Linked DNA regions of Homo sapiens: regions 1 and 3 are each linked to region 2. Evidence: fine-mapped expression QTL. A gene starts in region 2. Each other region holds a variant in brackets. All regions are shown on one strand. Distances are from middle to middle.

What was found.
Region 1: its variant is fine-mapped to the expression of NEU3 in whole blood (TOPMed, PIP above 0.99).
Region 3: its variant is fine-mapped to the expression of NEU3 in whole blood (TOPMed, PIP above 0.99).

What each region holds. Positions count from the first base shown.
Region 1 is chr11:74,955,437-74,965,625 of GRCh38, reverse strand. SPCS2 (signal peptidase complex subunit 2) reads right to left here. Exons shown (of 5, transcript NM_014752.3): 2 at 509-592. Among named protein-coding and RNA genes, the nearest start is that of SPCS2, 11 kb to the right of the region's middle. The variant G/A (reference allele first, on the strand shown) is at 6,165.
Region 2 is chr11:74,982,824-74,993,012 of GRCh38, reverse strand. It overlaps NEU3 (neuraminidase 3), which reads right to left and starts at 4,080. Exons shown (of 3, transcript NM_006656.6): 1 at 3,859-4,080. The coding sequence starts at 3,952. RefSeq lists enhancers at 12-131, 3,811-4,000, 4,281-4,330.
Region 3 is chr11:74,743,926-74,753,214 of GRCh38, reverse strand. RNF169 (ring finger protein 169) reads right to left here and starts at 4,366. Exons shown (of 6, transcript NM_001098638.2): 1 at 3,833-4,366. The coding sequence starts at 4,334. It also overlaps the pseudogene RPS12P22. RefSeq lists silencers at 3,592-3,691, 3,702-3,961, 3,992-4,141, 4,315-4,535 and enhancers at 3,509-4,102, 4,252-4,341. The variant TTA/A (reference allele first, on the strand shown) is at 3,091.

The DNA of each region.
Region 1 (10,189 bases), 27 kb after region 2:
AAGTAAAACTCAAGCCTTCTATAAAGAACCAAGAGAAAAAGTTCATCAATCCCTCATATAAAAAACTTTAAACTCCTCAACTTTTCCCACAGCTAAAATGTTTTACTTTTACAAATGGAGAGATGATTTATCATGAATGAATGTCCTATCTTCTCTCACCCTTCTGTGCTCTAGGCTAATTAATCTCAAAAACAAAAAATTACCAGCTTTCTTGAGATAGCCAACATCTATATTTCTTTTTTTTTTAATTTTATTATTATTATACTTTAAGTTTTAGGGTACATGTGCACAACGTGCAGGTTTGTTACATATGTATACATGTGCCATGTTGGTGATATTTCAACACACTTCCTCTGACTTTTTCTGTGAGAAATTTTAGAAACTGCTTTCTGACTTAATTTCTAACACTGAAAACTAAGGTCACTCCAAGTTACAAAAGGAAAAGATTTCCCAGGAGAGATGGCCATCAGCTGTATAGATACTAACCAACCCCTCCTCAAGAAAGTACCTTTTTGGCAGAATCATCCAAAGAGTTTTTCACAGCTGATCCATCCCACTTGTCAATTTTTACAGGCTTATCATCTATCTTCCACTGTAAAACAAACAAAAAAGTTGTGCATCAAGAAACCTGGCCTCTTACTGAAAGTAAAATGAACCATTTTTTAAGAGCATCCCTCATGCACATATAATATTTACTCTTTGTCTTCTGATGTTGCAGAACTAAAAGACAAAACAGGCTATTCTGGGCACACTCCTATGGGGTAGCCCTGCAAGAAGCAGTTAAAAACAAACAAAAAAGACCAAACAATTAAAAATCAGGTTGAAAGAGACTAGGTCACTAGAGTCAGGTGGTACTCATGTGATGCTGATGTTGCCAGTCTCCATGCAGAGAATATAAAAACAACCCCAGAACCAGAAAACGTATATGGGCTGCACAGACTGTAAGTGTAAACTTGTATATCCCACCTTCATTTTACCGAAATGTGAGTACAGAAAATTACTCTATTTGTTCATTCTTTCTTTCTGTGACCACAAAACTCAGAAAATACAGATACATGAATTTACAGATACTAACAAAATGGGGAGGATCTCCTTTAATATCACTTTGTCAGCTAACAACTTTTATTATTTTACCAGCATGTCTTAACTTTAAGATAGCAATTCCAGGATAGCCTGTTGGAAACAACACTACATTTTAAATTACAAACCAAGTCCCAGACTCAGTCCCAACACGAGTTGAGTGGACAAACTCTACTTCTATTTCCCTTATCTATAGAGGTTTAGAAAGTTTCCCAAACACTGCTATTCAGAAGCAAATAATTCTCTCACTGCTCATGTAGAAGTTCAAAATGTTACAGCACCTACGAATGCCAACTTAGCACCCTGAATTCAACTTCCCACTTCCAGGAATGTTTCTATAACTGAATACATGTGAAATGAAATACAAGGCTACTCACTGCAGCATTGTCTGTAATAGTGAAAAGCTGGAGGTAACTCGAGTGCTCATTTACAAGGGGATTGGTTAAACAAACTACGGTACATCCAGATATCTTATCAGGGTAGAGAAATACGGGGAGGAGTAAGATTACTCTATGTGTGCCTTTAAAATTTTTTAACCATGTGAATATATTACATAGTAAAAAATTTTCTCAAATGCAAGTATTTAAGTAAATATAGCTTAAGAGGAACAGGGTGCTACAAATAATCTGACAAACCTGTTTTTTGTAGACCATTAATGGCCAACTCTTAATTTTTTAGATCAAGTGAACAAATATTGTATTCCATAAAAATTACAAACCAGCAAGCAATCCAACGTTCATCTGGATTTAGAATGGATTATTTTACTGAAAGACAGAGAATGTCATATTTATCTTTCGGATTGAGCACAAGTACAAAGATAATGCCTATAAGAAATAAAGAGATGGCAGTGGTGAGTACCTGCCATCCCAGATACTTGGGAGGCTGAGGTGGCAGAACAGCTTGAGCCCAGGAGCTCGAGTCCAGCCTGGGCAATATAGTGAGAGCTTGTCTCTGAAAATAAATAAATAAATAAATAAACAAACAAACAAACAAACAAACAATAAAAAATAAAATAAGAGATGGGATAAAAATAATTGTAAAGATTTTAAACAACTACAGAAATACAATTCATCAACCTTGTTTTTTTTTTAACTGTGATTCTATATATTATTACACAAAAGAGAAAACCTGTTCTGTGAAGTTTGTTAGAAGAAATAACATGAGCTAAAAATAGCCATACTTAAAGTGATTAAAAGTCAATCAAGTTTTTTTTCCCCCTTGGTGCCCTGTAAAAGCAAAAATTTTTCTTTGAGAAAATTACTCATGGCAGCATACTGCACTATTGACTGCCATAGACTGCCAGCCTACAAATCAAACACGACATCTAATTTTAAAGATACAAACTGAACCAAAAAGAAATTAGCAGGTTTTCTAGCTAGATAGCTCATTTACACTGTCAAGTAAATCCCTCTTTGAAGACATGCAAAAGAACCAACTTGTAGAGCCAAATCCACCATAGCATTTGAATTATTTGTGAAATAAAGTCAGAATAAAGTCATTTAAAAATTATGGGTCATTCAAAAACAGGAAAATCATATTCTCAGACACCTAGCCACACTTCACTGCCTGCATTGCATCACAGAAAAGAAACTTGCCTTTAAAAGTCAGAGGATAATGTCTTAACCAATTTGGGAGAATAAAATGCAGAAGCAGCCATTACAATGTATTGAAATAGCCTCAGCTCTAACTTCACTGCCTGGTACCTAGAAGCAATCTTCAGTAAGTGGAAAAGAAACATTTCCAGTGAATTACATGAAATCACAAGAAAGGTTATAATTTGACTTTACGGCAACACAGCCCATTTCGAAGCAAGTAATGTCTCTACTACAGTATGGAGAACCATCTGGAAGAAGGGGAGTTGCTATTAGGTGCTTCTTTTTCTGATTATTACTTCTCATCATGCTCAAAAACTGCTCATCAACTAAAATGTATGCTGCTCCTCATGTTCTCTCTACTACTAATTCGGGTATTTTAAAAGCTATCTTTTTTTTTTTTTTGCCTCAATTTTGTCTTCCTCAACACTAATTGCAAATTGCTTTCCTTTTGTAATAATAAAAAGAGAAAGCAAAAATTAGTTTCTTTTATGTGGGACCTCACAGGATAAATTAAAAAGAAGGGCAGTGTGCAGAAATAAGTGAACCTGGGTCCAAGACTGCCATCTTTAGCAAGGCTTGTTTGCAAGGTTGGCCCTTGGCTGGTATCTGACAAGCTGGCTGATAAAACAAATCCCTACACTGATATAAATACATTCCCTCAGTGATAAGAATGGCTCACTGTGCCTCAACTGTTTGTATAAATGATGTGATTTATGTTGAACACCTTTCCTTCTGGAAATCTAGAAAAAGTTCTTTATGTTGCCAGTATCTAAAATTTCAAGATGATATCCCTTACACAGGTCAATTTTCACCCACTGTAAAACTGCTATTGCCACTCATCTTTTTATTGCAGCACTAAGCAGACCCTCAATCCAGAAACCAATGTCCTTCAGATTAGAAAACTAGAGTTCAAAGATGTTAAGTGCCATACAAATAGTAAATGACAGGCCAACAAAATTCTTTAGGGCTAAATTACAAATACATGGCTCATTATAAAACTGTCTCTTCTTCAGTGATATAAACTTATTTTTATTTGCCTTAATCCCTGAACTCAATCCCAAAGCAGATTGTGGCCTTATTCTTAAAGGTGTACTGTACTTCAAATCACAAGCTGATTGGTTCTGGTCAGGTGCAGTGGCTCACACCTATAATCCCAGCACTTTGGGAGGCTGAGGCAGATGGATCATTTGAGGTTAGGAGTCCGAGACCAGCCTGGCCAACATTGTGAAACCCCATCTCTACTAAAAGTACAAAACTTAGCCAGGCTAAGTAATCCCAGCTACTTGGGAGGCTGAGGCAAGAGATCACTTGAATCCAGGAGGCAGAGGTTGCAGTGAGCCGAGATGGTGCCATTGCACTCTAGCCTGGGTGAACAGAGGAAGACTCCATCTCAAAAAACAAACAAACAAACAAACAAACAACAACAACAACAAAAAACAAGCTGACTGGATTTAGACTAAATACAAATGTATGTAGGCAAATGCTTTTTTTCCTTACCCAATAAGGTGAATCCTTATTATCCAAGGGAGAATGGAGTCAGGCTACTTTATTTTAATCCTCACTTTTCCACTTAATACTGGAAGGCACTGGGCAAATAATTTAACCTCTCTAAAGCCTTATTAGTTTGCTAAATTGTAAAATTAAGATGGTGAAAGTATCTATTTCACAGGTTGGTATGAGAAGTAAATAGTGTAATTATAAAACATAGCACAGTGCACAGTGCCTGGTACCTAGCAAGTACTTCATAAAAATTAGCTATTGCTGTTGCTATTAATGATATAAAACTATATAATACACTGCATCATGGTTACCTGACTGTATGTATTGTCTCCCTCACTGGGTCACAGGGACTATACACTTTTGTATTCTCAGAGCCTGGAACACAATATACTCTCAATAGCTTTTTTTTTTTTTTAATGTCTAAATCCTTATAAAGAAAAAAAGGGAAGAAAAAGATCTCTAAAATGTTACTCTCCAGTTTAAATTTAGCAAATGTAAACATGGTCAAAATGATCTCACTTGGTTCTTATTCACAGAATTTCTTTAAGGGATGGAGGGCAGACAGAAGGTATAATCATAGCTACCATTTCCTGAATGCCTAACATGTGCTACGGATGTGCTAAGTATTTTATATACACTATCTCACTTAATTTCCACAATAACTCTACAAGGTAAGAACAGTTAAAATCCTCCTTTTACAGATAACACTAAGGGTTTAAAAAACCTGCCAAAGGTGAAAGGCAGAAAGTGGTAAAGCCAGGACTCAAAACCCATGCTCTCTCATTATTCTACACTGCTTTCCCATGAAGTGCAAGGAAAGGAATTATTAGCCATCAAAAACACAAAGAACAGGAAACAAAGAGATCCCTGAAGTGACAGCTATACATTGTATCTTGATTCCTAACAAGCTCTAGTAATAACATTTTAAAAACCTAAAAAAAAAAAAAAGATGTTAATCTTGAATAGGACCACAAAACTCACAGGGTATCAAAAATGTTGAACCTCCCCCCCCAATGTAAAACCAACTGCAATTTGGCTGAAAACAGAGCTCAAAAAGTACTATCTTAAAGAAATTACTCCCCTACACCACCCACTGAAGAGATAAAGACAACTTTTTTTTGAGACAGAGTCTTACTCTGTCACCCAGGCTGAGCGCAGTGGCGCGATCTCAGCTCACTGTAACCTCCGCCTCCTGGGTTCAAGCAATTCTCATGCCTCAGCCTCCCGAGTAGCTGGGATTACAGACAAGTGTCATCACAGTCAGCTAATTTTTGTATTTTTTAATAGAGATGGGGTTTCACCATGTTGGCCAGGCTAGTCTCGAACTCCTGGCCTCAAGTGATCCACGTACCTCAGCCTCCCAAAGTGCCACCACACCCGGCCAAGATAAAGACAACTTTTGTCAGACTAACACACCTGATGCCAGAGCTGGCTGGCTAACCAGTTCAAAGAAAACAGGCATTTGATAGCTTTAATAGAACATTATGAAGAATCATTTCAGTTACGTTTCTCCACTGCACATTTGAATAATAAAAAATTCTACAAAGACACTTCACTGAAGGTATGGCATCAGGAACTCCATAAGTGCTTAGGAAGGATATTAAACACAACTCAGGTCTGAAGGATATGTAGTCAGTACAGGAAGGCATTTTCCAAATTAACTCATTTGAGGGAATACAGCCTTCTGTTCCCATGCATCTCACCACACTCAAAGGGATAGGGTGGGATCAAAAAAAGAGACAAAATAAGCCAGGCACAGTGGCAACATGTTTATAACTTCAGCACTTTGGGAGGCCAAGGTGGAAGGATCGCTTGAGTTCAGGAGTCTGAGATCAGCCTGGGCAACATAGCAAGACTCCTCCGTATCTACAAAAAAATGTAATTTAAAAAATTAGCCAGGTGTGGTGGTGCCCACCTAAAGTCCCAGCTACTTGGGAGACAGAGGCAGGAAGATGGCTTGAGCTCAGGAGGTATAGGCTGCAGTGAGCC[G/A]TGATTGTGCCACTGCACTCCAGCCTGGACAATAGAGTGAGAATCCATCTCAAAAAACAAAAGGACAAAATCCTTGGTCATTAGGATATGTCCAGCAAAACAAAATTGTTTTGAGTATGACACATGAACACCTTCAATTATCTTATTTTAATCACAGTGAAAACAGAAGTTATGCAGTGATATAAAAGACCTGAGTGGATTGCTTCATAAAGTTCCCTGGCTTGATAATAAGACTCAAAGGATTCCTCAATTCACACTGGAGAGATGAAGAATTACCAAGGGTGAGAGTGGTGTCAATGGTGACCCTGTTCTGATTTAGACAGAACTGAGCATGGCTTTAAGAAAAATAAACTTTTTCTCTCCTTTATCCCAGTTTAGAAAGTAGACAGAAGCTGCAAAGGGGGAAAGTAGTAGGAGATGAGGCATCCGAGAGAAACCATTTCCTAGTTATTAGGCTAAAGAACTTGAACTTTATTCTGAAGCAGGCAATGGAGAGTATTTTAAGCATGGGAATAACAATCAAATTTACGTTTTTTTTTTAAGTCATTTTAGTGGCAACCTGGCAGATGATCTGGAGGGGAGTAACACTGGACATAGAGATGCAGATGGGGCCTGATGTAAGTGCAGAGCCTCAATGCTCAACAGAGCAGCAGTAGGGGGACTGAAAGGGAGTATTCTGAGGTAGAATTGGCAGGACTTAGTAACAGACTAGTTATAAGGAACATGAAAGAGAAGAGACAGAGATGACCACCTACTAGAATTAGGGCTTGGATGACTTGTTGGAGCCATCATGTCATTTTCCAAGAAGAAGAATACAGGAGGAAAAAGGATAAATACCCATTTGTATATGTGGAGTTCTAAACTAAAATAAGGAGATAATAAAAACTGATGGCAAACTCAGAAGCTGAGATTACAATTTCAGTTGGAAATATATAGTGCCTATATCCCCCCCACACACACATATTTAGCAAGAAAGGAAAATGTTCAGTTTGGGAAGAAAATGATGTCTATCTTAAGAATGTGCACTGTCATCTAATTTAGATCCCAATTCAGCAAAAACATGGTATCTCAAAGAGATTATGCTCTTAGCAACACACTGAATCTTCAATTTCAATCTATTTTTTATAAAAATGGCCAAGATACACTGCAAAGAAAATTACTAGCTTAACAGTGCTTATTACTGACTGCATTCATCACTGGAGTTAGAAGTTAGGAAATTACCATGTGTTAATTAAATTATGAGCACACACATTAGTGACAACCCCAGAGAAACTGATTCTTAGGTTTTACACTGCCTTCTCTACTCCACCACAAACTGCATTTAGCAGTGACGGGGCTGCTTCTACATCAACCCAGCCCATGAATAGAGAAGCCTACATGACTGAAGCTCTTTGAGGGCCAGATCACTGGATCCATGACTTAAACATCCCACCACTGAACCCAGTAAGTGTGAGATCTAAGGCTGAAAAGAGCTTAAAGTTAAAACAACTTGATTCAGCATATTAATCAGTAATGCTCCAACAACGAAGTATTTTTTTCTACCAGCAAACTGAAATGTAGTCAACAATCCTTTCACTACTAGCAACTAACATCTTCTAAAGTCTGACTGAATTGTTGGCATAATCATCCAGTATGAATTTCTTACCTTTGCAATGGGTAGACAAGAAATCAGATATACAAAAAAAATGGTCTTTACAATTTAGTTAAGGAAAATCCTATACTTACAATGAATTATAAACTATGCTAAGTGCTAAATGGTAAGAAGTAGACATAGAGGGGCAAGGGCACACTACAAGTTCAAGGATCTGCAAAAAAGATTTTGGATAAAATGTTACCTATTTCCTCAGGGATATCAATCTGCAGCAAAGCTGACTGGGGAGGGTTGGAAGAGAGAGGGATGCTGCCAAGGAAGACCTGAATTAAGGCACGAAGACTGGCTAGGAATGTACTACATTGATACAGATGTGCGATGAGTCCTTATTCTAGAAAGGTGGCAGATCACGTGCTCCATTTAAGAATTACATGCAATCAGTTCTGAAAAATGCAGCTGAGTGCAAATTCAGGGAGAGGACCATACAGCCGTTTCATCTGAAATCCATCTCCTACTGCCTGGAAAAATATTAACTGTTATATGACTTTTCTGGGTTTCTTTTTCTTTTTAAGGAAACTGCCAAGCCTCTCAATAGCAATTCATTCCAGTGTTGGACATTCTTTTAAAAGAAAAAAATAATATTTTTAAACACAACCTTTATGGCAATTACACTCTTTATTTTCTTTAAATTAATATTGAATGGCTGCTTGCTATGTGCCAAGCACTGTTCTAGCCACTAGGGATATAGTCATAAACAAGACAAATTCTGCACTCAAAGAGCTTCTTCTTGTATGGAAGATAAAAAGTAAACAAATACGCATATAATTCCAGGCTCTAAAAAAGATTATACAGAAAAATGCAATAGAGTTTTTAAAAAGACTAAAAAATAGTGAGGGAAAATAGTTAACATCTGAGCAGAGTTGAATAAAGGAGTAACCCATGAGAAAATCTGGAGTGTCCCAGTGAAAACAGTACACCAAAATCCCCCAAGCTTAACGTGTTTGAGGAACAGCAGAAAAGCCAGGGTTTCCAGAGTATAATGACTCAAGCAGAAACTGACAGATGAGGATGACAGAAACAAGCAGGATCAAGAACATGCAGGGGCTATAAAATAGGCCACAATTAGGGATTTGGAGTTTAGCTAACTGAGATGGGAAGTTACTGGAGAGATTCAGCAAGAGAGTGAGTGATCTATGTTTTAAAACATCAGTCTGGCTGCTGTGTGGAGAACAAAATGTAACGGAGCCAAGCACGGAAGCTGGAAGACCAGTTGAAAGGGCTACTACAGCTCTCTAGGTAGGAGTGGTCAGATTCTGGATGTACAGCCAGGAAAATACGACAATGAGATGGCTGTGGAGTACAAAGCAAAGAGAAGAATCAAGGGTAACTCTCAGGTTTTTGTTTGAATAAATTAGATGAATGGAGGTATCTACCTGAAATGAAGAAGACTGGGAGAGAAGCACTTTGAGGGGTAAGCGGAAATCAAGAGATTGGCTCTGGCTATTGATGCCTGATACATGTTTTAGACATTTAAGTGGAGATGACAAGTAGGCGGTTGGACAGAAAAGTCTGGGACTTATAGGAAAGGTCCAGGTTGAGAATATAAATGTAGAAGTCAGCAACTTCTACATGTTATTTAAGTCATGACATTGGGTATCACCTTGGGATGAGGGTAGACAGAGGAGAGGGCCAGGGGTAATAAGCTCATAAGCTCAGGGACTGGCAATATTTACACAGGTCAGGAAGAAGACCAAAGAACAATGAAGACAACAAAGACTAGTTGACGTAGGAGGAAAGCTGGGGGCAAGTGGTGTCCTAGAAGCCAAGTAAAGAAAGTATTTCAAGAAAAAAGAAGTGATCAATAAGTCAAATGCTACTGAAAGGCTAAGTAATATAAAAAACTACTATTGAAATTTGATAAGATGGAGATCAGAGCAGAGAAATGGTGCTAGCAACAGCTGAAAAAGGTACCTAGGCAGGCAGATATATATATATATATATATATATATATATATATATTTTAATTAGTAATTAAAGTAATAGTATTAAAGTAATCAGTGTCTGTGATACCACTGTGTTACATGACATATAGTTTAAAGAAATAATAATTTGAAACTTTAAGGGTTACTCCAGGAAAGACAAAAATAAGTTTCTAAAATTGCGATATAGTTCACACACTATAAAATTCACTATTTAAAAATAATGCCAATTCAGTGGTTTTTAGTATACTCACAAGGTTATGCAACCATCACCACTATCTAATTCTAGAATATATGCATACCCTCAAAAAGAAACTCCATACCCATTAGCAGTCACATCTTATTCCTGTCCCCTATCCCCGGGCAGCCAACAATCTACTTTCTGTCTCTATGGATATACAAATGCAGTCATACTATATATGGCCTTTTGTGATCGGTTTCTTTCACTTAGCGCA
Region 2 (10,189 bases):
CTTACTTTCTTGCAAATTCAGCTATAAAGGGCTTTGTTATTTTTTTTCTTTTGAGACGGAGTTTTGCTCTTGTTGCCCAGGCTTGAGTGCAATGGTGTGAGCTCGGCTCACTGCAACCTCCACCTCCTGGGTTCAAGCAACTCCCCTGCTTCAGCCTCCCAAGTAGCTGGGATTGCAAGCGCCCGCCAGCACGCCCAGCTAATTTTTTGTATTTTTAGCAGAGACGGGTTTCACCATGTTGGCCAGGCTGGTCTCCAACTCCTGACCTCAGGTGATCCACCCACCTTGGCCTCCCAAAGTGCTGGTATTACAGGCATGAGCCACCGTGCCCGGCCGGCTTTGTTATATTTTACCCACCATTTTACAGGTTGGCTACCCTGCCATAATGCTCACAATGGAGTCTCCAAGTATTCTTCTTAAAGAAAACCAGGTGTTCCACTTCTCAGAGGTCCAAAAGGGGAATCAAGCCAGACAGACAAAAAGCAGCCTTAGAATTACTTTTTCCTCAAACCAACTGTCATCCAAACCCAATTTTACAAATCATTTGTAAATATTATCAGGCTGTAAGAACAATTGATTCAATAAATATTTCTAGGTTCCTCCTCTGTGTCAGGCCCTAAAATAGATGCTGAGAAGACAGAGAAGGATCAGAGGTTCCTGCTCTCAAGAAACCCAATCCAAGTGAGGGAAACAGACATATACATGGACAATTATAACATGATGTAATAAGTGCTACTTTAGAGGTAAACACAACAGCAAGTAGAAAAACACAAAAGTGGCATCTATCCAGATCAAGGCACCAGAGAAGGATTTTTGGAGAGAATGATTGAGCCAAAAGAACTCCTGCCTCATATAGTCACAGGCTCTGCCTGGAACACTCGTTTCAGATAGCCACATAACGCTCCCTCACCTTCTTCAGCTCTGCTCAAACATCATCCAATCAGGAAGGTTTCTCTGTCAACTCCTTTGCCCCAGCCTATCTTCTTTCCTTGTTCTATTCTCCACACCACTTATCACACTTTGATGCCTCCTATGTTACATTTGTTTAATACATACCACAAAATGGAAGCTCCAGAAACAGCAAGGGTATGTCTGTTTTCTTATTGCTCCGCCTTGACACCTAGAACTATGCCTATTAAGTAATAGGCACTCAACAAATTTTTGTTGAATGATTGAATGAATCAGTGAGCCAGATCTTAAAGAATGAACAGTGGATTAGCCAACTGAGGGTTAAAAGGAGAAGCGCAGAGGACAAGGATGTGAAAAGCCTATAGGCAACAGAAAACAGTGAGTTTTGGGGCCTCTCAGTAGTTTAGTGTGACTACAGTAAGGTGGAGTGCAAGGGATGGGGGCAGAGGTGGGACTGAAGGGGTCAGCACAGTCCAGATCCTGGGAGGCTTAGATAACTTATTAAGGTGTTTATTCCACAGATGGGAGACCACTCAAGAATTTTTGACAGAGGAATGGCATGATGATTTTAGACCAATCTTCCAGGAAGCTTTCAGGACAGTGAACCATACGGCAAAGTTGCACTGCTTTTGGCTACAGCCTCCTAGTGTCAACCAAGACAAACTTTTATCAATAGCATATGAATATTTAGTCACTTGTTCCTAACTTGAAGAAGGGAAAAGAACTATTGCTCAGTATCATGAGGGGAACTGGGAGAGTGGCCTTGCTGAGTCCAGAAGAAAAGCCTCCCTTCATTTCAATCCCAGGCTCTCAACAGCAGAATCAAAAGATAAGCAAGGGGAGACCATCTTCTCACTCAATACTAGAGCATACTTCTCTCCCCTCAATTCAGGCTCTCCTCCCCGGGAGGGTCAGGCTTTGTTCTAAGCAAACAATCTGTCTCTGAGCCAGGCTGGTGTAATGGTTAAGAACATAGGATTTGGACCAGGCCAGGACTATGTGACCTTGGGCATGTTATTCAACTTCTCTATGCTTCAGGATCCTCCCCTATACAATTCAGCAGAGTAGGTGATAGAAATAAAATGCTTAACTACAGTGGCTATTACAAGGCCTATGACATAGTATGAGTGCAATATATGACAGTTATTATTTTTAAACTACCAATTACTGTATATTCTAGTTTTATTCCTTGAATCCTGTGGATAACAATGACAATAATAACAATTACAACTCCCTTTCTTAAAAACATTTAAATCCCCCTTTATTGCTGAAAGAGAACATACTTTAAACTCTTAACACCTTAATTACAAGTTAAACCAACACTACTATCATCAGTCAACATGTGACTATTAGTTAAATCTAAACAGGAATTCTCCAGGTGATAAGAAGAATGGAGCACAGGATAGGCATGGAGCGGGTTAGGGCTCAGAACAGGAAAGGAAGAGGCTGGGTGCGGTGGCTCATGCCTATATTCCCACCACTCTGGGAGGCTGAGGTGGGCAGATCACTTGAGGTCAGGAGTTCGAGACCACCCTGGCCAACATGGTGACACCCCATCTCTACTAAAAATACAAAAAAAATTGGCCAGGCATGGTGGCATCCACCTGTAATCCCAGCTATTCGGGAGGCTGAGGCAGGAGAATCACTTGAAACCAGGAGACGGAGGTTGCAGTGAGCCGAGACTGCACCACTGCACTCCAGCTTGGGTGACACAGCAAGACTCCATCTCAAAAAAAAAAGGAAATGGAGAGGAAATAGGGAAATAATCACCAAAGGAGAAGCACAACTTGTCACATGGGCTGGATTCAAGTCTCAGCTCCATTTCTTGCTGCATGACGTTTTGATGGTTACTCAACCTCTAGGTCTTGGATTCCTTGCTTGTAAACTATGGATAATAATACCTACCTAAGCAGATCAATATGAAGAACCACTCAAAAGTGTTTTATAAATTTTAAACTGCTGTTTTAATAGGTGTCTTTAATTATAAATTTTGATGTCCTCACAATTTCATTTATGCTTTATTATCACTATAACAATTAGAGCCATTAATTTTTGTAATTATGCTGATCGTGTTGATGACAGAAGTAATATAGATGGTGATTCTGGCATTGCCACCCAAAACGTTTCACACAAATCAGGTGCTGGAAACGGGATAGAAAATAATCAGATATGGGCCTGCTCTGGGGTTCATTTAAGCAGAGAATTCAAATGATTACTTGCTGCTCGATATAATCACTTTCCCATCAAGTCCTTCCCGCTTTCTTACTGGGAGAGAGTATAGCCTAGCATGGACTCTGAAGTCTGACTTATCTTTGACACTTACTAGCAAGTCACTTTACTTCTGAGCTTCAGTTTCCTCACTTATAAAATGGAGATAATACCGCCTACTTCTCAGACTATAATAATGTAATTCCACAGCCTCCAACTAACCCAATGAGCCTCCAGTGAATCCCAGGAGGCCTTCCTATCTCATTTATTCACTCCTAACAAGTAATATTTAAGGAGCACCTACCACGTGCCAGACCTTTGAAGATCTGTAGTCTAAACCCTCTCATGGTATAGATGGGAAAACTCGGGCCCGGGATGGGGACAAAGCTTACTGAACGCCACTCCACAGTAAAATCTGGACCAAGACCCAGGTCTCCTAAGTTGAAACTGAAGCTCAGGGCTCTTTCTGCCGCCCAGAGACCTTTGGTAAGCAGGGCTTTTCCAGTCTCAGTTCCCTTTCATCTCTGGAGTGATAATTCTGAGGTTTAAGTTCGGCTTCTGTGAGAACGAATAAAAATAGGACTAGCCAAGAATTCTCTGGCCAGGTCAGATCCTAGCCGACTAGGTGGCTCTGTCTCAATAATCCAAGGCTGGATTTCCCAAACGCAGATGGTCTTGCTCAACCTGTCCCCACAGTTGAGTCCTCCTCGGGGAGCTCTCCTGTCTCCCAACCCCGCTCACCTGCACTGGACCCCGGCTCCTCCGTCTCTGTCGGGGCAGAGCTGGACGCCGGGGATTCTTCCATGGGGCGCGGGGGCAGGTCCGCAGGTCTCATTCGCCGAAGCCCGGAAGAGGCACCGGCCCCAAGGCTGGGGAGACTGAGACAGAGGAGGATAGAGAGGGAGAAACAACTGAGACGGAGGACACGGAGACAAGCCCCGAGAAGCGAAGAGCGTGTCGACTGCCGGAAACAGGTAACGGCAACGAAAAGAGGCGGGCGCAGGCTGTAGTCAGTGGCGGTTGGGGCCAACCGTTGGCCTACTCCGCGAGCCCTCCCCGTCCCGCCCCCTCGGCGCTGCCCCTCCCTCCAGCCCGCAGCTCGGTCCCCACCACGGCGTGGGACCGGCACCACCTCCACCCTCGCCAACTCAGCTCAAGCCCTGGGCCCACCTCAGTTCCCAACGGCCGCCTCCTCTCTTCAGTGCCACAGCCCCGAGCTCTTATATTGGTCTGTAGCTCGGTATCACCGCCTAAAGCTTCCCTGGACAGCCTGAGAGTTGAGCAAAGGTTCCCGGCCTCAGAGGGTACCCTACAAAAAGGACCAGAGGTCCAGAGCATTGGCTACTCTCCTTGCAAAATATGAAAATGAAAATATATTCATATATATAATTTATGTGTGTGTATATACACACATTTACATACATAGATTTGTCACATAGCACTGAGTCCATTCTTCTGTTTCACAGTACCGGAATTTAAGCCCCCCTCTCCCCAGCCAAAGAGGAAAGGACTGATCTAAGGTCATTTTTTATCTGGGACTAAGTACAACGTAAAGGTAATAGGCTGGGCCTGGTGGCTTATGCCTACAATCTCAGCGCTTTGGAAGGCCTACGTGGGAGGATGCCTTGAGCCCAGGAGTTGGAGGCTGTGGTGAGCTGTGATTGCACCACTGCACTCCAGCCTGGGTGACAGAGCGAGACCCTGTCTCTAAAATATAACAATTTTAAAAAGAAGAAATTTTACAAACGCCAATAAAAGGAAAGACAGACTGCTAACTTAGAGGACATAAAAATGTAAAGCTTCTGTAAATTTGAATTCGTGATATTTTTCTCATTAAAAAAAATCCTGTGCTGAGGCAGGGAACATACAAGATGAGCCTGGAACATCGTGGTGCCACAAGGAAAGAACTCACAAAATGATGAGGGTTCTTTGAAAGAACATAGGTGCCAACCTCAATACAACCTGCTGTATTTTTCTAAAAAAAAAAAAAAAAAAAAGAAAAAAAAAAAGGCCTAGAACCAGAGACCAACTCATCGTAATAAGCCCAAATAATGGGTCTTTTTTATTTTTATTTTTATTTTTTGAGATGGAGTGTGTCTCTGCCGCCCAGGCTGGAGTGCAGTGGCGTCATCTTGGCTCACTGCAAGCTCCGCCTCCCGGGTTCACGCCATTCTCCTGCCTCAGCCTCCCGAGTAGCTGGGACTACAGGCGCCCACCACCACGCCCGGCTAATTTTTTGTATTTTTTATAGAGACGGGGTTTCACCATGTTAGCCAGGATGATCTCGATCTCCTGACCTCGTGATCCGCCCGCCTCGGCCTACCAAAGTGCTGGGATTACAGGCGTGAGCCACCGCGCCTGGCAATAATGGGTCTTAAAATACTATTTTGTCCCCAAAGGAACCAGGGTTCCATGAAAAAAATGGCTGATTTTAGGTGCAGGGAAGAAAATTTATAAGATTAGCCTAGAACATCTTAACAGAAAGCAAGAAAGCCATAAAAGACTATTTCAGGTCATGTCAAAAGAAGGTAAGAATCAATTTGAAGGTGATTCCACTGGCCAAATATGGAAAAATTAGAACATCAAAAAGAACAAGGACTGCAAAGAAAGTTCATATCGACATATGGAGAAAAATGTCACTTTGGTCACCTCAGAGTTTGCTAAGGAAAGCAGCTTTTTATTCTGCCTTTCCTGTACAAACCCTATTTCTGGGTAACTAAATAGTTGATGGGGAAAAGTTCTCCTTCATAAAATAATTAACTGACCAATGCCAAATGAATGATAGAATTTCATCATTTTGTCCTTTAATGACAAAATGAATTTAATGAATCTAGACAGCAATTATCAATAGCTACTAAAAGCTACACCCTTATTGCTCACCTTTTCTTCCCTTCCTACTTTCCCACCTCATTATGGCACTCCCTGCATCTCTCACATATACTATTGCCCTCAGGTCCTGGTCTCAGAACTTGCCTCTGGGAGAACTCAAATAAAGACCCTATACCAGGAGATAAGAACAACAAAACAGTAATGAGTTAAGGATCTAACTTAAGAATGTAGAAAAGGAAGAACAGAATAAATCCCAAAAAGGTAGAAAAGGAAATGATGAAAATAAGAACAGAATAAATGAAACAAGAAGCAAAGTACAATAGAGGGGACTGACAAAAGCAAATATTAGTCTTGACATATCTAATAAACCGGACAAACCCTCTGGCAAGACTCATTTTTAAAAGTTATAAATGATATTAATGAAAAGGAGACTATATGCAGGGATACAACAGAGATGAGAAATAAATATTAAACAAACTTTATTCCTTAAGTTTGAAAATCTAGATAAAGTTAATACAGTTTTAGAAAAAGTTACCAAACTAAGATATGGAAAATGTGAAGTCTTACAACTATTTAAAAATCTAAATCAGTATTTTAAAATCTATTCACAAAGATAACACAACTATCCCAATTATTCCAATCTTGTATTTCCTTCATTAATAGAAGGAATGTAAATTGGTACAGTCGCTTTAGAGGAAAATTTAGCAATACCTAGAAAAGTAAAAATGTATATCCTCTCCCACCAAGGAATCCCACTACCTGTATTAGATGTGTCCATACAAGAATGCTCATAGCAGCAAATGTTTAATAGTGAAAAATTATAAAAGACCTAAATGTCCATTAATAGGGTAAATAAACTGTCATGTTTAACAGTATACAGCAGTGAAATAGAATAAATTGTAGCTACAGGTATCAATCTAAATTATCTTCACAAACAAAATATTGAACAAAAAAGCAAGTTGCACAATACAGAGAGAATGGTACTTGTGCAGATTTACCATAGCAGGCCTAACAGGTTATCCTTAGGAAGGCCTGCTTGCAAGGTTGGTGTTTTTTGACAGGTGTCTGGAAACTTGGCTCTCAAAGTGTTCCCAGTCACCAGTTAACTGAAAAGGGTAGTTGACTATGTAGACTGTTTGATTGCAGTATGATTTATGGTGGATACCTGCTTGCTTTCTAGGAGTCTTTATTATGTGCTAGGCAGATGGTGCCCACATGACCAAACCTCAATAAACTGTGGGTACTCTCTAATGGGCTCCCTGGACAGAAACATTACACACGTGTTGCTGCATTTTTGTTGTTGGGGCAAAGTGGGCTCTTTGCAATCCCTCATGGGAGGAAGAGCATAAGGAAGCCTGCAAATGGATTCCTCCAGACTCTGCCAGTGTCCTTTTCCCTTATGATCCAGATGTGTCCTTATTTTATCGAAGAATAAATCTTAGTCATATATGCTGAGTCGCGTGGGTCCTTCTAGCAAATACCTGAACACAGGGGTTGTTTGGGAGACTCTCAATCAAAAACCACATATAAAGTTTAAAAACAGGTAAAACAATAACCATATATATTGTATAAGAGCTCCCAAGGAGGTAAAAATAAAATTAAAAAATAACCATATATGTCTCTATATATCTGTATATATCCATATATATAATGGACACATATGTATGAAGAAAATGCTTACGAATAATAAACACCACATTCCAGGTAGTAGTAACTTCTGAAAGTGCAGGAAGTAAGATATGATTAAGGATACCCTGAGGACTTCAACTGTATTGGTAATATATATATTTTTAATGGCAGTAGGTTCACAAATATTCATCTTATTATTCTTTAAGCCTTATTTGTCTGAAATATTTCCTTTATAAAAACCGGGTCATGTCCTGGGGTTCTTTATCAGACTTCTCCAAGTTCACAATCACCAACTCTGTGGATCTCAAATTTTATAGACCCAAAGCTAATACCAAATCTTTCTCAATTCTTTGAGGTAAACTCAGATGGTCTCATCTTATGCCTGAGAAAGTGAAGTTAAAGAGCAATTTCTATATTTAGAGGTAGAGAATCCTGGCTCCAATCCTCTCTTCCCACTTCCTAGCTGAGTGATCTCGGCAACTTATTTAACTTCTGTGCCTCAGGTTCCTCATCTGTAAAATGGCCCAACTCCTCACTCATGGTTCAGTTTTCACTTCCTGTATGAGGACCTCCCAGACCTCCATACTAGAACAAATACTCCTTTTCAAGCCCCCATAGCACTTTGCACCTCCTTCTACTGTGTTCAGATTGTCTAAGTGTCTGACACTCTCAGCAGACTGTGAGCAACTAAAGCGAGGGGATCAGGCCTGGCACCCGTATTAGCAGAGCAGAATTATATAAAAGTTTGAAGGAAGAGGGATGCAGAAGGGTATTAAGTAATGCGATCAAGTAAGATGGCACAGGAATATCGGGGGAACTTCCTGTTACAGAAGTTAGGGAGCTTCCAAGATATGGGACAGGCAGAAGTAGGAGTGGGGCTGTCAAGAATTGTGAAGGGTCTGAGATTTTTATCTTACCTGCAAGCTAACAAGATAGCCTGTTACTACCTGTAAAAAGGATAGTTTGTTACTTACAGCAATAGCAGTAGCCAGAGTACCAGCATTTGTTCCAGTTCTGAGCCCCAATTCCCATATGATGACGCAGAGAGCCAGATGATACCTGCACATGTAATGAAGTGCCTTAAAGGAGAGGAACTTTGAGGTTAGGGAACCTGAATCTTCAATAATGGGCAGTGAGCATGTGCGCCCTTTGCTCTGATACCTTCTAAGGTTGTTTACTATACAAACATTCCTGGACAAATAGTCTGGAACAAAGATAGTCAGTGCCTCTCTTTGCAAAATATGCAGAAATGCTAGAGACCCATGAAGAATTGTCTCCCAACGATATGCACCTTTCATTTCTATGCCATCTTGGCTTTTGATGAATTCTCCCATAAGTATGCCACTCCACCTGTCACTCTAATTAAACTGACAGAAACTGGAACCAGGTCCATTCAAAGTATTTTATTACATTTAATTAAAGGTACTATCAACAGAACTCTATGTAACAGGATAAGACCAATCAGTACTGACTTCAGCCATATCCAAGGGCCTGTATCCAACAAGGTAGGAAAAAAAAACCAACAATCATAAACCATCAGGATCTACCTTAGAAAGCCAAGTGGCATTCTCAAGTTTCTGTATTGACCCTGTACTCGGTCTGAGACATTAATCCAGTCACAGTGGGATGTATTAGTGATTGCACTGACTCCAATTTGGCCCACAAAGAGGAAGAGCAATTCTATCACCCATAACCACCCTGGCCAATGAATTGAGGCTGACTTAAGTGCCATCCAGAGCTGAGGTGGTGTCACTGATGACTGCAGCTAAAGTCAAGAACAAATTCCTTATCAACATTTCCAATAGGATGACTCTCAGGATAGTGATAACTGCCTGCAGTATGCATAAATGAATCAGTTACGCTTTCAGGAAGCTCCTCTGGCCGCTGTTGTTTCCTCAAGAGCTCAGTAGCAGCCTAAGAGGTGCCTATCTTTTTAAAGGTCACTCTTGGAGTACTCAGGATATTTCACCTTGGTGACTGCAAAGTCCACATAGCTGGTTATAATGGAAAATGGCCTGAGTACTACAGGAGTAACTAAGTTTTCAACTAAACCTGTGCTTTTATTTCTTTTCCTCTTGCGGTTGTATGTTGTTTCTTTTAGACTACATCTCTCTATACTGCAGTAGTCCCTGAATGGGAGACTTATAAACTTTCCTAGTTCAATTAAATGTATATTGGTATTAACAACACACTTTGATGCTAAAGCCATAAAACAGCAGTACATTAAATGTTTAGAGGCTCCATCCACAGGTCATTTTAATTTTCCTTTCCCATGCAATTATCCCCTAAACCAGCCCGTGAAAGGCCTTTGTCCTTTCTCTTCTAGAAAACCATGTTGGTCAGGATCCAATTTTCATTACCACAACTTTCACATCTGTGAATTTTATCCTACTTGTAAGCTAACAGACCCTACCAGTTGAATTCAGGTACTTTTTCTCCCCTATGGGCACCCAAACCAAGCAGTTTAAGATAGGTATGTTGGAGATCACAGCCAAGAAATGATGTTATTTCCACAGCCAGAAGTGTGAGAGGTGGTGGAAGGAGGAGGTGGAAGAGGCTAGCCTGCAGGAGACAGTTGTTACTAGGAAGTAATCCCACTTTGACTCCTTGCCCC
Region 3 (9,289 bases), 240 kb after region 2:
GGGTGGATCACCTGAGATCAGGAGTTTGAGACCAGCCTGATCAACATGGAGAAACCCCGTCTCTACTAAAAATACAAAATTAGCCGGGCGTGGTGGCGCACACCTGTAATCCCAGCTACTCGGGAGATGGAGACAGGAGAATCGCTTGAACCGGTGAGGCGGAGGTTGCGGTGAACCGAGATCATGCCATTGCACTCCAGCCTGGGCAACAGAGCAAGACTCTGTCTCAAAAAATAAATTAATTAATTAATAAATAAAATAAAACAATGGTTCAGATTCTGGTGAAAGCTACTGGTGACTTCTCCATAAAAATGCACACATGCATTTACATAATGATTTTATAAACAATTATTTATAATAGCAAAAGACAGGAAACAATCAAAATGTCCACCAATAGGTGGTTAATTATGCTATATCCACTCAGTAAAATTCCATACAACATACTGCTGTGGACTTTGATGATGTATTCTTAAACCAAAAAAAAAGCAAGTTACAGAACAGTGTGTATAATGTACAACCTTTTGTATAAAAATGGCAAAAAATAAGCATACTTGAATTTTCATGTAGATAGATCCATAAACTGTGGAAGAACAAACAAGAATCTTTTTTTTTTTTTTTTGAGACAGAGTCTTGCTCTGCCACCAGGCTGGAGTGCAGTGGCATGATGTCAGCTCACTGCAGCCTACGCCTCCCAGGTTCAAGCGAGTCTCCTGCCTCAGCCTCCCCAGTAGCTGGAACTACAGGCGTGTGCCACCGCACCTGGCTAATTTTTGTATTTTTAGTAGAGACAAGGTTTCACCATGTTAGCCAGGCTGGTCTTGAACTCCTGACCTCAAGTGATCCGCCCGCCTTAGCCTCCCAAAGTGCCAGATTTACAGGCATGAGCCACCATGCCCAGCCCAAGAATCTTTGACGGGAGTGAGAAATAAGGGGGTAAGAGAGAATCACTTCTTTTTTTTCCCTTTTTTTTTTTTTTTTTTTTTTTTAAGACAGTCTCCCTCTGTCAACAGGCTAGAGTGCAGCGGTGCAATCTTGGCTCACTGCAACCTCCGCCTCCTGGGTTCAAGAGATTCTCCTGTCTCAGTCTCCCAAGTAGCTGGGACTACAGGCACACACCACCATGCCCAGCTAATTTTTGTATTTTTAGTAGAGACGGGGTTTCACCATGTTGGCCAGACTGGTCTCCATCTCTTGACCTTGTGATCCGCCCACCTCGGCCTCCCAAAGTGCTGGGATTACAGGGGTGAGCCACCGCGCCTGGCCAAAGGGAATCTTTTCATTGTATACTTTGTTACATTTTTGTTTGAATCCTGTGAATGCACTGCCTATTAAAAATTTTAATTTAAAAATACTGTATATAACTACAAGAGGATCAGACAACCCACTGAAGCTAAGAGATACTTCCTAAGCCTTTTGGCAATATTTTTGTATTCTAAAATTTTTCAACTGAATAAGCACATAACTGTATATACAAAACAATCCAACAACAAGAACATTTAAGAAAACCATTTTTCATTTTGGTCCTCATATAAACATATAAAGTAATTAATGAATACTAAGTGACTCAATAGATTCTAATTTGAAATCTCATTTTAGATAATTTCCCTTAATCACTGATAAATTTTATGACAAAAACATCTTCAAGGGAAAAAGTTTGCACAAATCATCAAGCCAAACTTCCTCTCATGGTTCAAATTCAGAACTGGTATTTCACAACAGTCTCCAAGCTTAGAAATCAAAATGAAAATTTCTATCCTATGTGGCCATATAATCAGTAGTACTAATAGGGAGACCAGAGAAATACTGTCTTATATCGTGACCATAATCTCAGACTATAAAGCAAATTAAGTAGCATATGAAACCATCACACCACATCCACAAAATTAAAGACGTTTCATCCCTGATTTGAGCAGGAATAGGATAGAATCGGGTTTTCATCCTTAGGCAAGTTAGTTAACCTCTCTGGACCTCAGTTTCATCTATAAAATGGAAATAAAAGTACTTATCTCATAGGGATGTTGTGAAGCTTAAAAGGAATAACGAGGGCTGAGCACAGTGGCTCACGCCTGTAATCCCAACACTTCAGGAGGCAGAGGTGGGCGGATCACTTGACGCCAGGGGTTCGAAACCAGTCTGGCCAACATGGCGAAACCCCGTCTCTACTAAAATTACAAAAATTAGCAGGGTGTGGTGGCGCGTGCCTGTGGTCCCAGCTACTGGGCGGAGGCAGGAGAATCGCTTGAACCTGGGAGGCAGAGGTTGCAGTCAGCTGAGAGATTGGCCACTGCACTCCAGCCTGGGAGACAGAGTGAGACTCAGTCTCAAAAAAAAAAAAAAAAAAAAAAAAAACCTTGGGAGGCCAAGGCGGGCGGATCACAAGGTCAGGAGTTCAAGACCAGCCTGGCCAACACAGTGAAACCTCATCTGTACTAAAAATACAAAAAAGCCGGGCGTGGTGGTGGGCGCCTGTAATCCCAGCTACTCGGGAGGCTGCGGCAGGAGAATCGCTTGAACCTGAAGGGGTGGTGCACAGAGGCTGCAGTGAGTGGAGATCGCACCATTACACTCCAGCCCGGGCGACAGTGCGAGACTCCATCTCAAAAAAAAAAAAAAAAAAAAAAAAAAAGGTGAGGGGAGTGACAAGGAACATAGAAAGTAAGATGCAGGTCCCCCTCAACCCCAGGAATAAAATAGCCCAATATCCTAGGACAGTGACAGGTGTCTCTGGCGGCTTGAATCAAAACAGAGTGCATTCTAGAACCTGTGGTTTCTAGAAGCTGCACTTGTATACACAAGCAATGCCTCTCTTTCCTTACCCAAAAAAACACATGGCAGAATTCCCAAAACAGAAGGTACAAATATCTGGCCTTTCGTGATTTATGTTTCTTGAAAATCTCATTCTAGGTAAGCATTTTTTATCAAACAGAGCTGCAGATGTTATGTTGACTGGGTGTGTCCCCAAAAGAATCCTAAGTTATAACAGTCTTATTTTATACAGGGCACTTTGCATTTCAAAGCTCAGAACCGAGGAATAGCAGGCTGCTGGTGTTAGGGGAAAGAAGTTCAAGGCAAGAGTCCTACAACAGACTT[TTA/A]ATTGCCAGCAAGCCAGTAGGAAACCCATACTGCCAAGGAGATAGAAGCAGCCCCTGCCACCCAACCTTTGTTTCCAAAACTTTTAAACCCAAGCCAGCTTTTCTGTCAGGCACTACTGGACTTAGTAGTACTAGTATTACAAATATAAACGACAGTCACTTACTGCTTCCTCACTATGTGCCAAGTTCTGTGCTAAGCATACATTTTCCAAAATGTATGAAAACAACTGCACAAGTGTGCTCCCAACCCCCTCTGCTCTCGAGTCTGAAAAGCTCCCTTCACATCCTCAAATTCAACCTGTTCCCTAAACTCCGGATTCTCCACACCCTTCACTGACCCTTTCAAGGCCAGGAGCCACATCTCTCCAAGCAATATGACCCCCAAACTCTTCATCCAACATTAAACCAAGCACTTCTCTGATCCAAGGCCCCTCCCACTCCCACACACCAATTCCAACCTGCCCCTAACTTGTTCCAACAATTCTGTTTCCCTCCAAACTTCGGACTTACGTAAGGCACAGGGTGCCCTCACCGCCCCTCCGCATGCAACGTGCCTGTCCTTCACTCTGAAGTTCAAAATTCACAAACACACTGCACCTGGGTAGAGCCCGGGTTCTAATCCCACGAGAACTCTCCACACCCGCCCGAGTAGGGCCCGGGACTCTCCACCCCCTCACCAGGCCGGGCCGGGGCGCGCTCGGCCTCGCTCCAGACCCTAAGGGGAAGTGGGGAAGCTCCACCTGGCTCCGCAGGCGCGGCACGCGGCTCCTGCTCTGGCCTGGGCCCCGCGGCAGCCGCGCCCCCGTCCCGGCGCGGGCGGCAGCGCTCGGGTTGGCTGCGGCGGGCGCACTCGCCCAGCACCTCTGAGTCGGCCTGGCCGTCGTCGCGGGCCCGACGGCGGGCCCAGCCTGGGCCGCGGGCGCGGCAGCGAGGGCAACCCGGGCCCGCCGCGTCGGCGGCGCGTTGGGCGCAGCCTCGGCAAAGCGAGTGGCCGCACGGCAGGGCCGCTGCTTCTCCGGGGGGCTCCAGGCACCCGGCGCAGCCCGATTCCTCCGGCCGCGGCGGCAGCGGCGGCTGCAGCAACGGCGGCGACAACACCAACAGCGAAGGTCCAGAAGCCGGGCCTGGGGCCCCAGTCTTAGCTGCCGCCGTCTCGTCACAGCGGCCCCGCCGGCCCCGCCGACTCAGAGCGGCTGCTGCCGCCGCGGAAGAGGCCCGAGTACTCGGACCTGCAGCCGCCATCTTGTTTCCCGTTTGAAGGGAGAGTCGGTTGCGAGGGAGAAGAGTGGAGGGCGGGGCAGTACGCGCGGTGGGCAGTGCTATCTACATATTCATGAGGGGCGAGGCTTCTGTGAGCCCAAAGAGGGTTCTCCTCAGACCTGATTGGCCAGAGGGGATACTTCATTAATATTTATTAGTTATTCTTTATTATGCGGTCATCAGCCGCACTCTCGAAAAGTCCTTGCAGTTTCCTCTTACTGAACTGAAAGAGGTGGGAACTGAGGGGCTTTACTGGCAATTCTGAACGATGTTAAACTTTGATACACGTACTTATCCTGTAATGCCTTGATAACTGAGGAGAAAGTGAGTGGGGAATATGTGAGTTACTCAGAAACCTGCCTTAGTGTTCATTTGATATGAGGGCCTGAGCTCTCTCCTAAGGATGGGGGTAGCTTTGTGACTGAAACCAGGCCCACCGTGGTAACTAACTGCCAAAAGGAGCAGCCTCTTGTCAATCCTACCTCCTCATCCTCTCTCCCCATGTCCCTTCCTGAAACTGCCCCCCTTGGCTGGTAAAACCACACTTTCCTGGTTTTTTTCCCAGGCTCTTGGCTCCTTCTCAGTCTCCCGTGTTTGGTGCTTCCATGTGGGTGTTCCTCTAGGCTTAGGCCTCAGTCCCCTTCTCACTCTGCGTGCTGCACTGGTCCACATTTTCTTCCCTCAGGAGCTCCCAGATTGCTGTCTGCAGCCCAGGCCTCCTGAGTCCAGCCCTCCATATTCAACTGCCTGATGGAAACATCCTCTTAGATCCCTACATTCCTCATGTACAAAACTAATGTCACTGTCTCCCATCCTCCTTTCAAAACTGCTCTTCTTATTTCCTTCATTCTATGAAAGGTCCCATCCTCCCAGGTACTCAAGCTCCAAACCTAGTCATCTTGAACTTCTTCCTTATCTCCCACAAACCATCAGTTATTTAGTCCTGTCAATTCCACTATCAAAATGACTATTTCCCCACCTCTTCATCCCATTCCCACTGCCCAATTCAGGTCTAATCATCTCTCATCTAGATTACTGCAGTAGCTGCTATAGATTGATTGTCTCCCCTCTCCCAACCTCTTTTCTAATCCATCCTCCACACTCTTCGAGTTGCTTCCTATAGGCCAGCTCTGACCGTGTCACTCCTGCTTGAGCTAGGGAGAGGTGCTTGGACTTTGATGCTAGTGCCCTTTCTAGATGCAGAGGTTCCAGGAGAAAGAATGACCCCTCTCTAATGGAAAGGTGGTTCTGCTACAGTAGTTCTCCCATTCTTTGCTTTCTTTGCCCTGGGATAGATTTGGAGCAGGGCAAAGAATGGGAAGCATTAAATAAATGGCATTTCTTAGTGGAAACCTTTATAGGATAACACGAGTTTTGTAAAGAGAGAAAAATAAAAAAGCAACATAGGCTGGGGGCGGTGGCTCACGCCTGCACTTTGGGAGGATGAGGCAGGCAGATCGCTTGAGCTCAGGAGTTAAAGACCAGCCTGGGCAACATGGTGAAACCCCATCTCTACAAAAAATACAGAAATTAGCTGGGCATGGTGGCACTCACCTGTACTCAGGAGGCTGAGGCAGGAAGATCACTGGAGTCCATGAGGTTAAGGCTGCAGTGAGCCGTGATGGCACCACTGCATTCCAACCTGGACAACAGAATGAGACATTGTCTCAAAAAAAAAAATCAACATAATATAATAGAAGGCATGAGAAGCCCTGGGTTTTGATGAGATTGCCCAGAGCTAGCGGTAAACCAATCCAGTGCCGAGTGATTGATTAACTCAGAGAGCAGGGGGAAAAAAAGGTGATGGATTCCCAAGATAAGAACCAGATGGCTAAAGGACAGTCAAGAGTTGAAGAAAGGCCAATGGGTGATTAAAACAAAGACCTGTTTGCATAGAGACCCAGACAGAATCCTGCCAGACACAGAAGTATGGCCTTGGCTAGGCTATCCTTTATCCATGGGTCCTGCCCACTTCCATCCCAACTTAAGGTTCTTGAGGACATTTTTCCCGGATTCTGACAAAGGAGATCTGTGATCCAGAGATCAAGCCAACCATCATTAGAAATGGGACCATTTGTGCAGGCTGTTCACTCTCGATGGTTTGGATCTTTTAATCTGTTTACTGTTGGAGGAGCTGAGCCACAGAAACATAGCATGCTTTCTTGGATACAAATAAATATAGAAAATTTCCTTTAGCAGAGGGAAAAAGCAAGAGGTCTGAGTAGCACTGGACCAGAAGCCAGGAGATCTGGGGTTGGTCTTGGCCCCTTCTAACTCACTGTGTGATTTCAAACAGCTAACTTCCTTCTGGGCCTCAATCTCCTCATTTTTAAAACAAGAGTATTGAAGGCTTGGTGCTGTGGCTCACGCCTGTAATCCCAGCACTCTGGGAGGCCGAGGCAGGCAGATCACGAGGTCAGGAGACCAAGACCATCCTGGCTAACACGGTGAAACCCCGTCTCTACTAAAAATACAAAAAATTAGCCGGGCGTGGTGGCGGGCGCCTGTAGTCCTAGCTACTCGGGAGGCTGAGGCAGGAGAATGGCGTGAACCCGGGAGGCGGAGGTTGCAGTAAGCCGAGATGGCACCACTGCTCTCCAGCCTGGGCGACAGAGCAAGACTCCATCTCGAAAAAAAAAAAGAGTATTGAAAGTCATCAGTTCTCGCCCTTTCCCTCCTGCCGCCGAGTCGCGCGGAGGCGGAGGCTTGGGTGCGTTCAAGATTCAGGTTCACCCGTAACCCACTGCCATGGCCGAGGAAGGCATTGCTGCTGGAGGTGTAATGGAGGTTAATACTGCTTTACAAGAGGTGCTGAAGACCGCCCTCATCCACGATGGCCTAGCACGTGGAATTCGCGAAGCTGCCAAAGTCTTAGACAAGCGCCAAGCCCATCTTTGTGTGCTTGCATCCAACTGTGATGAGCCTATGTATGTCAAGTTGGTGGAGGCCCTTTGTGCTGAACACCAAATCAACCTAATTAAGGTTGATGACAACAAGAAACTAGGAGAATGGGTAGGCCTCTGTAAAATTGACAGAGAGGGGAAACCCCATAAAGTGGTTGGTTACAGTTGTGTAGTAGTTAAGGACTATGGCAAGGAGTCTCAGGCCAAGGATGTCATCGAAGAGTATTTCAAATGCAAGAAATGAAGAAATAAATCTTTGGCTCACAAAAAAAAAAAAAAAAAAAAAAAAGAAAGTCATCAGTTCTCAACCTGGGACACACCTCAGAAACACCTGTATATATCAAGGTCCCACCTCAGATCTAGTGAACCCAGAAACCCAGGTGGGGGATACCAGGCTGTGTATTTTTTTTTTTAGTGCCATAAGAATTCTAATGAATACTCCTAGGTAAGACCACTACAATAGATAAATTCAAAGGACCATTCCAGCACTAACATTGTAGAAGTCCAACTTCCAATTTCCAGCCTCTTCTCTCCTCTATGCCATTGCTGAGTAATCTTACTAAAAGCAATAGTGGTGACAGAGAGCAAGGCACACCTAAGAAATCTGGAGAGCCACTCACTATGTGGGAAGCTAATAACAATGAGGATGATTCTAAAGTTTCAAGCCTAGCAGCCTGGGATTGTGATGAAAATTGAAAACTGACAAAAATGCATCCAAACCTCTTTCCTTCCTTCCCTCCTTCCTTCCTTCCTTCCTTTCTTTCTCTCTTTTTTTTTTTTTTTTTTTTTTTTTTGAGACAGGGTCTCATTCTTTTGCCCAGGCTGGAGGGCAGTAAGCAATCACGGCTCACTGCAACCTCTGCCTCCCAGGCTCAAGCAATCCTCTCACCGCAGCCTCCTGAGTAGCTGGGACTACAGGCACATAACACCACACCCAGGTAACTTTTATATTTTTTATAGAGACAGAGTTTCACCATGTTGCTCAGGCTGGTCTTGAACTCTTAAGCCCAAGTGATCTACCTGCCTCGGCCTCTCAAAGTGCTGGGATTACAGGCATGAGCTACCGTGCCTGGCCCAAACCTCCTTTCTATTTAGGGAATTCCCCATTCTATATAGTATTGATGAGGCTAGGGAAGCTGAACCTGAAGGGATATTCTTCTCCCTGCCCCCTAACAGTTAGGACGTGACACATGACCCAGGCTCAGCCACCTGGCCACTATTCTCTGAGCTTGGCATCTTCAGCAAGTGACATGAAAACATAGAGACAATTTTAGAATTATTCATAGCAACAGAGACAGTAGGTATGCAACAGCAGTGGGGCCCTGGTGGGGTTTGAGGGGGGTGGCCCTGCCATGATGAGGGTGGCCATGCCAGGCTGTACCTGAGACACAGACTTGGCTGTGGTTCCCGTTGCCGAGCCTGCCTAGGTTACAGCCCATTTTCCATATCCGATGCTGCAGTTTTCCTGTCAACTCTTTGTATCCTTTCAGTAAATTTCATTTTTTCTTAAATGACTCACAGTCTCTGTTGTTTACATCAAAGTACTCTAACTGAGACATTAGCTTGTTGTTTTTGAAGTGTCGCCTAAAAATGGTTGTCAAGGGTGCTTGGTAGATTATAAAATGATACAAGAAGCTTAAGCCAACAGCCTAGAGTAGAACAAGCCCAAATAGCTTTTCTCTAAGGCCCCACCTGCACCACAGACCACCATGGGAAGAAGGATTCACAGACTCCCTTTAATGCACGATGCCAACTGGAACAAATGGCAGTGCAGCCCCAGGTACCAATGCTTCCCCTCCAGCTGCTTTCTGAGGATTGCATTGCTGTCAGAATTCCCTACCATCCTTCTCATAGCACCTCTACCCAGATAGCTCTGCATGGTTCCACCCCACCACTACCCCTTCCTCACTCCTCATCCACATCACTACAAAACTTCCCTCTAGCTGATGGCTCCAGCTTCTCCTTGCTGGACTGAAAGACTCAGATATGAGCAAGGCCATTCAGCCTAGTTCCAGGTGGAGACAAGGCTGTTTC